Linked DNA regions of Homo sapiens. The protein of the gene in region 2 interacts with the protein of the main gene of each other region in a pairwise test. Each region holds a gene or a part of one and is shown on either strand. Other genes may lie near its edges. The genes, in order: MS4A1 and FCRL3.

Evidence for each region.
Region 1: the proteins of FCRL3 (region 2) and MS4A1 interact in binary tests that used the Homo sapiens proteins (3 or more experiments, as listed by UniProt).

The regions. Positions count from the first base shown.
Region 1 is NC_000011.10:60,465,726-60,471,427, reverse strand, and holds the end of MS4A1 (B-lymphocyte antigen CD20), read right to left. Parts: intron 5,508-5,702; coding exon 5,271-5,507; intron 4,470-5,270; coding exon 4,368-4,469; intron 3,179-4,367; coding exon 2,960-3,178; 3' UTR 676-2,959; downstream 1-675. UniProt on the Homo sapiens protein: B-lymphocyte-specific membrane protein that plays a role in the regulation of cellular calcium influx necessary for the development, differentiation, and activation of B-lymphocytes.
Region 2 is NC_000001.11:157,683,770-157,691,065, forward strand, and holds part of FCRL3 (Fc receptor-like protein 3 isoform 1 precursor), read right to left. Parts: intron 6,765-7,296; coding exon 6,486-6,764; intron 6,149-6,485; coding exon 6,029-6,148; intron 1-6,028. UniProt on the Homo sapiens protein: Promotes TLR9-induced B-cell proliferation, activation and survival but inhibits antibody production and suppresses plasma cell differentiation. Enhances activation of NF-kappa-B and MAPK signaling pathways in TLR9 stimulated B-cells.

The DNA.
Region 1 (5,702 bases), on a different chromosome or scaffold from region 2:
TTCAGATTTGAACCCCTCCATCAGTGTTTTATGTTATACACCAAGAATTTAAAACAAATCAGATTTCTTAAATGAACTCAAGCTAAATGAATCTGAAGTAACTATTTCTGTGTATTGGATCTTTGACTATTCTCTTGTTGATGTGAAATTAAAGGTAAATTTTCTGGGTTTTAACAGGTGCTAGTAATTCCTACTGGTCAATGTTGACAAGACTTTAAATGTAAAGCTACATTTTGAATAATAAGAGGAAACATGTATCTTGCTCATGATTTCTGTGCTCCAAAAGTGATTTGTATAAAGAAAGAAAAGGAAATACCCTACATATCCAATAATAGAGGAATGGTAAATTTATATTGATTCATAAAATCCTAAGTTGAAATTAAGTGATGCTTATGAAATTATGTATCAATAAGGAAAAATCTATGATATACTGTTACATGTAAAAAGTAAATATTATGCAGTGATTGTAAGTGAGTAATCTATTACTATGAAGTAGGATAATCAACTATCCTGTTTGCCTGGGACTATCTTGGTTTTAACATTGAAAATCGTGTATCCCAGGAAATCCCTCAGACTCAGACAAACTGGGATGGTTTATCACCTTATTTTAAACAAAGATTATAAGAAAACCAGAAGAAAATGAAAATAAGTTACGTCAGCCTCCTAGTCAATGAGTGCACTTGGGTTTTTAAAGTTTATTTCCTTTGTGGATACAACATTATTTTTACAAAAATGCAAATTGGGAGGAAAAACTAAGGCTAGAGAATATATCTTCTACTTCTTGGCAAAGCATGTTTACTATTGGTCAATGTTATTATTTGACTCTATATTGCCAAAGGGATAATCGGGGAGAAGGTCATAGGAATTTTCATCCTTCTTTAATAGCAGACATTAAAGATGTCTCCTATTATAAGGAGTTATGTGAGGTCAGCTAAAACTAATTATTTGAGGTCATACAAATGACTCAAAATTCTTAGAGAAACCATGGGTTTGGAGAGGAATCCTCATATATATTTCAGAAGAGGAGAAAAAATAAGATAGAAATAAGATCTTGTATTTTTTTAAAGATTTCTGACTTTCATTTTTTTCTCAGGCCTGCTCCTACTATGTCCTTTTCCTTCTCTCATATATTTCAGTCGTCTGGAGTTCTCAGAATAAGGAATCCATTATCAATGACCTATCCCATGAACATTTTTTTTGAGAACCTGTGTAAGACTATATAGACATGAATATTTGATGACCTGACACCTCACCGTTCAAACCTAGATTTGGGTTGTATAAATATCAACTCAAGGCTGTAAGAGCCTCCCATGGTCTAATGTTTCAAGAGTAAAGAAGAATAGACAAACACCCATGTTGGAATCATCTGTTGCAGAAAAGAACACAAAGATAGTTTTATTAATTTAGAACAAATTTTGAGAACTTTACATAGACAGAAATCTTCTATCTCCTTTTTTTCTAATTTTGGGGAATGTCTTCCACTAGTGGTCGCTAAAAATGTAGAAATATCATAGGGAGTGCAAATTACATTGTCTCTTTACCTGCCACAATCTGGCAGCACTCATCATGTAGCAAATGCCCAAATAATAGACTACAGATTATAGTGACTTCACCCTAGGTTAACATTATTTCTAGGTAAGGTACTAGTATATCTGAATTGAAAAGTAGGGCAGCTGTTGACTCAGATTCGGCATTTTAATTACATTGTTTCCAAGTATGATATTCTGAGAGTGTCTATAGCACTTAGTGTCTGCTTCATATAAACTACCAGTTATTATATATTTATGATGCAAGTAGTTTTCCAAATGTGGTGAAAGTCTGAGTCTTTTTATCCCCATGGGTAAAATCTGAATCTGGCTCTCTGTGTCTCTCAGTGCTTGTTTATTGCTGGTCAGAGAGTAAATTCTTGATAAAAGCTGTTGACTTGGCTCTCACAGTTTATGCAGACATTGGAGAGACAATTTGGTTATTTCAAACATCACAGGATTTGAGTAAGAAGACCTGGTTATGAAACAAGGCTCTCATAATTACTAGTTATGACTGTTGACAAGTTACCTTTTCTTGTTTACAAGTTATTTGGCCTCTTTGAATTACTTGTAAAATAGAGATAGGGATTCTTTCTTGATCATGGAACATCAAATGAAGTTATTTGATGAAATACTTTGTCATCTGGAAATTATAAATATAACTAAATGTTAATTATTATTTGAAATTTGGGCACCTCATGGTGGCATTTTCTATGGTCATTTTTTTCTTTTCTCGCATAATGGCTAAAAGTAGGTAGACATGCAAACAATAGCCTAGAGTGGGAGTTAGGAAAAGTTAAGGCAGAGACATGTCCATGTATAAGCTATGCTGTTTTTACAAAAAACAGATGGGTGTTGGCTATTTAGAGCTTCCCTCATGGGGTGTGGTAACTCTAAGAATGTGCCACAATGTCAGCCCTGTAGAAAGATAAATGGAATGGGTTCTGTATTGTCCCTAGTTGTTATTTTTTTTTATCATCCTTAAAACAATGATGCAAAAGGGACTCCACCAAAAACGTAGATGTGGAATAAAAAAAAGATAGTTTAGGAATGTCATGAAGCAGTCATATATCTTTTCCATCAGGTGCAGTCTCCCTGGTTGTTGATGGAGAAAATGACAAAAAAAAATACTATACTAAAAAGCCTATCCAAGGAACAGGTTAGTAGGAAATCACATTCTGAAGCACTCATTCTGCCTTTCTTCAGTGTAAGAAAGTTGCTCAAAAGAAGAAGCGTGACAACACAAGCTGCTACAATGGCTACATTCTCTACATTCAATGTAAGAGAGAAGGAGCTATGGTCACTCCATGCAAAGGCCAGATAGAGATGTGGTGCGTATGTGCAGAGTACCTCAAGAAATGAAAGTCAGCATGTCTCTTGGAAGCTATGAACACTAATGTTTAAAAAAGGAAACAGAAAACAGAAGAAATCACTTAAGGAGAGCTGTCATTTTCTATTGGTGAGGATTCCTGATCTTGGGGAGGTTCTGGAAAGTTCGTCTCTGTTTCTTCTTCTTCCTCTTCTTGGATTGGAATAATTTCAATGTCTTCTTCATTCTTTGGTTGGGAAGATGTTTCAGTTAGCCCAACCACTTCTTCTTTTATTTCAATAGTCTGTTCTTTTTTTTCTTCTGCTGACAGGAGAACTATGTTCTAAAACAGAAAATTAAACAAACCATTCTTTACTTTTACCACTGACACCTTTGTCAACAATCTCCACAAACATTTATCAAATACCTCCTGGTTTTTATGCTACTTATGTCATTTATTATATGCCTTTAAATGCCAAAATTTTTTTGCAGGTGCTTATATCCTTATCAAGTCATTTATTAAAACTCAAGTCTGAATAAATCTTCAAGGGCAGCAGACATTGACCACAGTGCCTGGAATGACCACGTGGTATTGGGAAAAGAACATTGCAGTAATAGAGGAGTTTAGATTTTCGTTCTGATTTGCCTTTAGTGAATATAACTCTGGGAGAATAATTTTCTCTCTTTGATACTATTTTTCTTTAAATGCAAAATGAAGTAATTAGCGATGATTTCTAAATTCTAAATCTAACAGTCTGGTTCTGAAGCAGTTAGTAATATATCTATTATTGGTCTGTTTTTATTTCCCATTTGTGGAGCCCTTTAACCTGTTGTTTTGGAAGAGGAATTAGGTGAAAAGGAGGGAAGAGGGGAATACTGAAAAATGAAACCAAAGAACTAGTGACTTAGCCTTCAACCTTCAACCATCTTGCTTTTACACACTGTATATGGAATCATGAAATCAGGATGGAAGCCTGAAGTCAAGCAGCAGGGAAGGTTAATAAGAAGATGCACAGAGGTGGGGCATGGTGGCTCACGCCTGCAATCCCAGCACTTTCGGAGGCTGAGGTGGGAGGATCACCTGAGGTCGGGAGTTCAAGACTGGCCTGGCCAACATGGTGAACCCCCGTCTCTACAAAAATACAAAAATTGGCCAGGCATGATGGCGGGTGCCTGTAATCCCAGCTACTCGGGAGGGTGAGGCAGGAGAATCGCCTGAACCCGGAGGCAGAGGTTGCACTGGGCCAAGATCGCGCCATTGCACTCTAGCCTGGGCAACAAAGTGAGACTCTGTCTCAAAAAAAAAAAAAAAAAAGACGCACAGAATATAGAACTGTAGGCTCTAACTACAGACTTATTTCAAATTTCAAGACATCATATTATTTGCTTTCTAGAAATATGCCAAGACCAATTTTTTTTTTTAAATCAAGCTCCTAGTTTCAACAACTCATCAGATTACATTCTCCATAAATGATCCTTTGTGGATGTGGATTTTCTAGAGGGAGGTTTTGGCCAGAGGGGCTACTACTTACAGATTTGGGTCTGGAGCACGTTCTTTTCCATTCATTCTCAACGATGCCAGCTATTACAAGTTCCTGGAAGAAGGCAAAGATCAGCATCACTGACAAAATGCCCTGAAAAACAACAGAAGAATGAAGGTGAAAATGTAATAATGGCACAAAGAACATTGTTGGTGTTCAGTAAGTTATTGTTGACTATAATTGAACGATTAAGAGATCAATTCTTTAGACAAGTAATGAATAGCTGTGAGAACTGCTAGTACAGGAGACAGCATCTTTATAACCCTAACTCTTAACACAACTTTTGGCACACAACAGATGGTTAATGTGTATTGCTGATAGAAAGTAAGGTATGAATAATCAGTTGAAGAATCAATTCTGTATAGGAAAGAATAAGTAATGAGTCTCAAATTAAATTGTATTCAGCCTTAGTTGGTGTGGCATCATGCCTAGGAGACCTCTTCATCCTTGGGAGATGCATTTTTTTTTATCTCTTTCAAACTCTACATTTAAAAGTCCTTGGGCAAAAGATATTCATAACATCTTAGGAATTTCTTCTATGCTCATCTTAGTTAATATAATGGTAAATATTAATGCCATTAATGATGTTGAGAATAATTAATGTTAAAGCCAATGCTTATATAGCACTTCTGTGTACCAAACACTGTTCTAAATGCTTTGTATATATTAACTTATTTATTCCTCAGAACAACCCTATTAGATAAATAGTGTTACCATCCCCATTTTACAGTTGAAGAAATTGAGGCACAGTGTGGTTAAAATTCTTTCCCAAAGCCACACAGACAGTAACTAGCAAACTCAGGTGGTCTGGATCCAGAGTTCATGCTCATAATAAACAAGTCATCCTTCCTCCCTGGAGAGAAATCCAATCTCACACTTACCAAGAACACTTACCAAGAACAGAGATTGTATGCTGTAACAGTATTGGGTAGATGGGGAGTTTTTCTCAGAGGGATTAGCTGGTTCACAGTTGTATATGTTAATATATGGTGTGTGAGCTCTAATAAAATTCAGACTCTCCATTTTTAAAAAATGGGAAATTTTAATATTAAGTATGTCCATGATTGAAAGAATCATTCCAGAAATGGCAGCAAAGAGGCTCAATGAATTCATTATCATTTTTCCTTTGACCTGAAATGGAGACACAGATTTATTAATTGGGTTTGATTTCCCTTTGGAAAACATAATCTGGGAGGGAATTCCAAATGCAACTGCCCTGACTCACAAAGCAACTACAACTAAATATACTGAAGTTCTCTCAGTTGTTTTTAGCCTCTTTGTCACTATAAAATAAAATCATGTCTCTATCCTGTTCTTTTCTCAGTC
Region 2 (7,296 bases):
AATGGCTTTTCCACACCTCTTCTCTCCTTCTCTTTCACTTGGCTAGCTCCGATTTATCTTTCTTCCAGAGCTGTCCCTGATGCCAACAGGCTGGATTAAGTAAACTGTCTCCATGCACATAAGACCATGTAATATTAAAATTACTATATTGTTTCGTAATTATTTATTTCTATTTGCCTCTATTTCTCTCTTTCATGAAAGGGTGTGCTACTTGAGGCTGTAAACCTCATCTTAAATTTTTTTGTATTCCTAATATCATGCTTAGCAGTTAAAAATATTCAACAAAGATGTGTTAAACAACTGAACAAAGTATTTACTTTGAGGACTTAAAAATAACAAATTGACAATTTTCTAAAAGGAGATTGCCTGTTAGAAGTCTATCCTTGAAGCCAAATCTATCAGACTTAAAAATATGGCAAGTTTCCGTCATCACCGAAATATTGAATCTTTCAGGCTTGCCCCAATACAAGCCTTATCCAGGTTCCCATCCTTGTCCTTTGCCTTTTTAAAATCTGTGGCTCTAATCGGTCTCATTGGCTTAGAGAATGCAAGTCGTTGCTCAAAATAAACATACCAGCCTTGACTCTCATGAAAAATAACTGAGTAACTCCCTGTTCCTCAGGGAGTGGGACTCCTGAGTTAAGCTAGAGGGGTATGATCAGGATCTGGTCCTGAATCTCCTCAGAGCAATCACAATCCACATCAGTCAATAACCAGTATCTTTTCTGTGGGTGGTTAGCTCCGACCTAGAATGCATCTGGGAGTCAGTCTATCTCCTTATCTGTAAAAGAGAAAACTGAGACCTAGACAGGTGGCTATTTATTATACAAGCTAATATTCCTTGAAGACATATGGGCCAGCACGGTGCTAAGCAGTTTACCTAGGTTGTGTCATAGTACCTAAAAGGTAGATACTGTTATTATTATAACCACTTCATAGATGAAGAAACTGAGTTTAGTGAGTTTAACTTATTTGCCCAATATCAAGTTGGCAAGTTTTGTTACTGGAATTTCAACACAGCCAGATTTACTATAGAGTCAAAAAACCTATCATTCCTTTTAGGAGTGATTCACTCAGGCAAGGAGCAGAGCCCTTAACTTTTAGAAAAATGTAGAAGGTCTGAGCTTCTTCCTGAGAAGTCTTGTCAATGGTGAGAAGGGAGACTTTGCTATGAGGAGGTACAATAAGCAAGATTTTGAGAAAAGAAGAGCACAGACCCTCTGCTTGGTGAACTGTCCTAATTCCTTAGTGAGTTTGTTATTTAAAATAACACTTCCCCTAAGTCTGGGGGACAGACCACCTGGGCTTCTGTTCACATGGATCATGTGAAATGATTGTCAGTTTTCTCTCCTGGTGCTGTGCTGACTGACAACCTCAACACTGAGATTCAAATGTCTTCTTTTAGTATGTTATAGATTAGAAAATGGCATCCCAGATAAACAATGAGAGGAAAAAAAGAAAAGTAATTTTGGAAGTAGGAGGTGTGACTAGCCTTCTATAAGTAATATAATTTCACTTGAAAACAGCAATAAGTTGAAGATGTATACTATAAGCCCTAAAGCAATCACCAGAGTAACAAAACAAATAATTATTGCTTCCAACAAGAAAACTTAACTATTCTAAATATATATGCACCCAACATTGCAGCACCCAGAATCATAAAACAAGTTCCTCTTGATCTACAAAAAAACCTGGACAGTCACACAATAATAGTGGGAGATTTCAATATCCCACTGACAGAGTTAGACAGATCATCGAGGCAGAAAACTGACAAAGAAACTCTGGACTTTGTCAGAAAACTGACAAAGAAACTTGACACTTGACCAAATAGACCTAACACACATCTACAGAATATTCTATCCGGCAACTATGGAATATACATTCTTCTCACCTGCATGTGGAACATATCCTAGGATCAGCCATATGCTGGGCCATAAAGCAGATATCAATAAATTTTTTTAAAAAATCATACCAAGTACACTCTTAGACTACAGTGCAATAAAAATAGAAATAAATATCAAGAAGATCTCTCAAAACTAACAAATACATGGAAATTAGACAACTTACTCCTGAATAACTCCTGGGTAAAGATAAAAATTAATGCATAAATAAAAAAATTTTTTTTAATTAATGAAAAAGGGACACAACTATGCATGTCCACTATCACTACGCCTATTCAAGATAGTCCTGAAATTCCTAGCCAGAGCAACCAGGCAAGAGAAAGAAATAAAAAGCACCCAAATAGCTAAATAAGTCACACTTTCTCTTTTCACTGACTGCATGACTCTCTAACTTGAAAGCCCTCAAGACTCTGCCAAGAGTAAGGTTTCAGGACACAAAATTAAGGTACAAAAACCAGTAGCATTTCTATACATCAACAAAGTCAGGCAAAGAGTTAAATCAATGGTACAATTCCATTTTGAATAGCCACAAAGAAAATGAAATACCTAGGAATACAGCTAACAAAGGAGGTGAAAGATCTCTGCGAGAAATTAAAAAAAAAAATGCTGAAATAAAGACAACACAAATAAATGGAAAAATATTGCATGCTCATAGATTGGAAGAATTAATATTGTTAAAATGGCCATACTGCCCAAAGAAATTTACAGATTCAATATTATTCCTATCAAATTACCAATATCATTCTTCACAGAATTAGAAAAATCTATTTTAAAATTCATATGGAACCAAAAAAGAGCCCAAATAGCCAAAGCATTCCTAAGCAAAGACAGCAAAGCTGAAGGCATCACACCTCACAACTTCAAACTATACTATAAGCCTACAGTAATCAAAATAGTATAGTACTGATACAAAAACAGACACATAGACCAACGGAATGGAATAGAAAACTCAGAAATAAAGATTCACACCTACAACCATCTGATCTTTGCCAAGGCTAACAAAAAGAAGCAATGGGGAAATGACTGTCTATTCAATAAATGGTGCTGGGATAACTTGCTAGCCATATTCAGAAAACTGAAACTAGACCCCTACTTTTCACCATATACAAAACTTAATTCAGGATGGATCAAAGATTTAAATGTAGGACTCCAAACTATAAAATTCCTAGAGGAAAACCTAGGAAATACAATCCTTGACATCAGCTTTGGCCAAGAATTTTTGGCTAAGTTCCCAAAGCAATTGCAACAAAAACAAAAATTGACAAGTGTGACTTAATTAAACTAAAGAGCTTCTGCACGGCAAAAGAAATTATCAACAGAGTAAACAGGCAACCTATAGAATGGGAGAAAATATTAGGAAACTATGCATCTGACAGAAGTCTAATGTTGAGACCTGTAAGGAACTTAAACAAATCAACAAGCAAAAACCAAATAACCCCATTAAAATATAAGTGAAGGACATGAACAGCCACTTCTCAAAAGAAGTCAAGCAAGCAGCCAACAAACATAAAAAAATGCTCAACATCACTAATCTCCAGAGAAATGGAAATCAAAACCACCATCAGATACTATCTCACACCAGTCAGAATGGCTATTACTTAAAAGTCAGAAAACAATAGGTGCTGGTGAGGCTGAGGAGAAAAGGGAATGCTTATACACTGTTGGTGGGAATTTAAGTTAGTTTAACCACTGTGGAAAGGGGTTTGGAGATTTCTCAAAGAACTTATAATAGAGCTACCATTCAACCTAGTAATTCTGTTATTGGTATACGCTCACAAAAAAATAAATCATTCTGTCAAAAAGACACATGCACTCATATGTTCATTGCCATACTATTCACAATAGCAAAGATATGGTATCAATCTAGGTGCCCACCAGTGGTAGACTGGATAAAGAAAATGTGGTACATATACACCATGGAATACTACGCAGACATAAAAAAATGAAATCATGTCTTTTGCAGCAACATAGATTTAACTGGAGGCCATAATCATAAACCAACTAACACAAGAACAGAAAACCAAATACCACATGTTCTCACTTATAAGTGGGACCTAAACATTGAGCAAACATGGACATAAACATGGGAACAACAGACACTGTGGACTACTAGATGGGGGAGATGGGGAGGAATGTGTGAGTTGAAAAACTACCTATTGGGTACTATGCTTACTATCTGGGTGACAGGATCTGTACCCCAAATCTCAATATCATGCAATATAACCATGTAACCAATCCACACATTTACCCCTTACATCTAAAATAAAAGTTGAAAATTTTTAAAAAGTTATGGCTATTATACTAACAAAGGAAGTAAAATAGAATTAAAAAATCAATTATTCCAAAAATAAGTCAAAGTAAAGCAAAAAATAGATGTGACAAATAGAAAGCAAATAGCAAAATAGACATGAAACCTAATCATATCAATAATTACACTAGTGCAAATGGTCTAAACACCTCATTTTAAAGGCAGACTACAATATTAAACTAAACAAAACCGGCAAGAATTAGCTGCATGCTATCTATTAAAAATTAACTTTAAATATAGGGGTACAAATAGGCTAAAAGCAAAAGGATGGAAAAAAATCACATGCTAACACTAATTATATTAACATATTAATATTAGACAAAGACTGTTTCACAGTAAGTGATTCAACCAGGGATACAGAGGGTCATTTCATAAGGATAAAGTGGATAATTCATCAAAAACATGAAAATTCTTAACACTTATCCACCTAATAATGAGCAATTCCAAATTCTGGAAGCAAAACTTGATAGAATTGCAGAAGAAATGGATAAATTCACAATTACAGTTAAAGATTTTAATTCCCCTATCTCAGTAATTGATAGATCAGGTAGACAAAAAATCAGTAAGGATATAGAGGAATTGAGAAACATTATCAATCAAATTCACTGGCAGGCAGTCATACTGTAAGAAATGTTAAAAAAAAAAAAAAGGTCCTTCAGGCAGAACAAAATTGATACCAGGTGAAAATATGGCTATATAAAAAGGAATGAAAAATTCTGGAAGTGGTAACTGAGTAAGTATTCCTTTGAGACCAAATCATAAAAAGACATTTCTAGAAATGAAAGCTAACAACAAATTTTCCTCATAAACATGGACGTAAACATCCTTTGCAAAATTTTAGCAAATCAAATCAACAGTCATGACCAAGTTGGGTTGACCCCAGAAATATAAGGCTACTTCGACATTCAAAATTCACCTTATCAATAGACTAAAAAAAATCTCATTACTATCTCAATAAATGTAGAAAAATCATTTTACAAAAATTTATTTGTGTAAAATCTCTCAGCAAATTAGGAATAGGAGGGACTTCCTCCACCAGATAAACAGCATTGAAAAAAACCCATGGCTAAAGTAATCTGTAATGGGGAGAGATTGAATACTTTCCCCCTAAGATCTGGAATGTGATAAGAATATTTTCTCTCACCACTTGCACTCAGCATTGTACAGGAGGTTCTAACCAGTGCAATTAAGCAAGAACAAGAAGTAAAAGAAATTAATATTGGAAAGGAAAGAGTTAAACTATCTTTCTTTGCAGACAACATGATCATCTATATAGAACATCTGATGAAATCTGCAAAAGAGATACTGAACTAATAAGTCAGTCTAGCAAGATTTCAGGATATAAAATTAATATTAAAATTAGTTGTGTTTCTATACACTAGCAACAATCGGAAATTGAATTTTTAATCTCATTTTTGGCATTCTTTATTTATTTTATCCAATTTCACTACATTTAGCTGGCATTCAAATATATCTCGGAGTTTATGGTCACCTCTATGATGATTTATTTATTTTTTGTTACAAATGAAGGACTTTCTTAGGGAGATAGAACATGAGTTAATTAATTTTCTAATTTTTAATTGGAAGCAAAACTCTGCTACCTAATATAAATCTCAAATTAAACACATGAGGTAAAAATTTTATTGAGAAGTTTATTCTATTGTTTTTGCTACAATTGCCTACAGAGTGACAGTGAGTAGTGGAACTGAGGGCCTAGTACTTGGAAGGGAATACTTGACCTTTATAGGGTGCACCAGACAACTTCAAATTATTATAGCAACGGCAAAATCACATCACAAGGTAGGACCTAGACACCCACCTGGTTTCCTTCGGGCCCTGGCGTAATGCAGCAGAGCAGCAGCAGCAGCAAGGACGAGGATGCTGAGCACCAGCCCCGTGATTCCCGCAGCGGTAAGGCCTGTTCTGTTCCTGGAAGTTCCTGAGTGGAGGGAGCTGTACTTGAGTTTCAGTGGCACAGGTTTTGGATACAGACAAAATCATGCAAGTAGGGTGAGTGTGTTCCAGTTTCTGATTCCTCCTGTAGCATCATTTGTAATTTTCAAAACTATGGCATATGAAAGGTATTCTCCAGCATCTAAGATTAAAATGTATTTCCTTTCCCTCTCCCATATAAAATCAGTACCAATCTCCAGAAGTCCCAAGCCTTCGTGTGCATGTTCAAAACCTCCTTGGTGCTAGTAGAATTTGTACAATCTGTCAGATAACTATTTTATTTACCATAACTGTGACCTCTAGCCCAGGTACTATTAACACACCTGTAACATTGAGTGTCACCACTTTACTGTGCTGGGCCCCCAGGCCATTGTCAGCCTCACATGAGTAGTTTCCAGAATGTTCTGTAGTCAGAGAGAGGTTGAAGGATGCCCCTCCTCCAGAGTGGGCCGAGATGTTCCCCAAGGTGTCATCCTCGTGATAAAACCAGTACAGGATCGGGAAGGAGCCTCTCAGGGACTCACAGTGAAGCTCCAGCAGGTCCCCCACCACAGCCTGGGCCCCGGGAGCCCTGAGGGTGAGGACGGGGCGAGACACCGGAACTGAGGGAGGAAAAATAGTTCACTGGCAGTTTTACTTAAGTAGGTATACAAGAGAACTTAATAAAGGAATATGCAGCATAGTTGAGTTGCGGGAACATGCACCTGGATTCTGGAGAACCTGGGCTTCAATCCTGTCTCTATCCTTTATTAGCTCTATAAGCTTGATTTTTTAAGAACTTTTTAATTTCTCTAAGTCTTAGTTTATTCCTCTGTAAAACTGAGTTAATGATACATTATATCTCAAGCTATTGTAATAAAAATCATATTGCATGTAAAGTACTATAAAAATTGGTTATTATTATTGATAAAAATATAGCTAAAATCAAGGTTTCTAAAATTCCTACACCTGAATCTTAGCTCTAAGACTGAGACTTCCATACCTATCTAAAGGCAGGACCCATTACTCTCTACCTAATCACCTTGCTTTATTTTTCTACATAGCATTTAGCACTACCTGACATCTGTCTATGTATGTATGTATGTATGTATGTATGTATGTATGTATCTATCTATCATCATTGTTTTATATGAT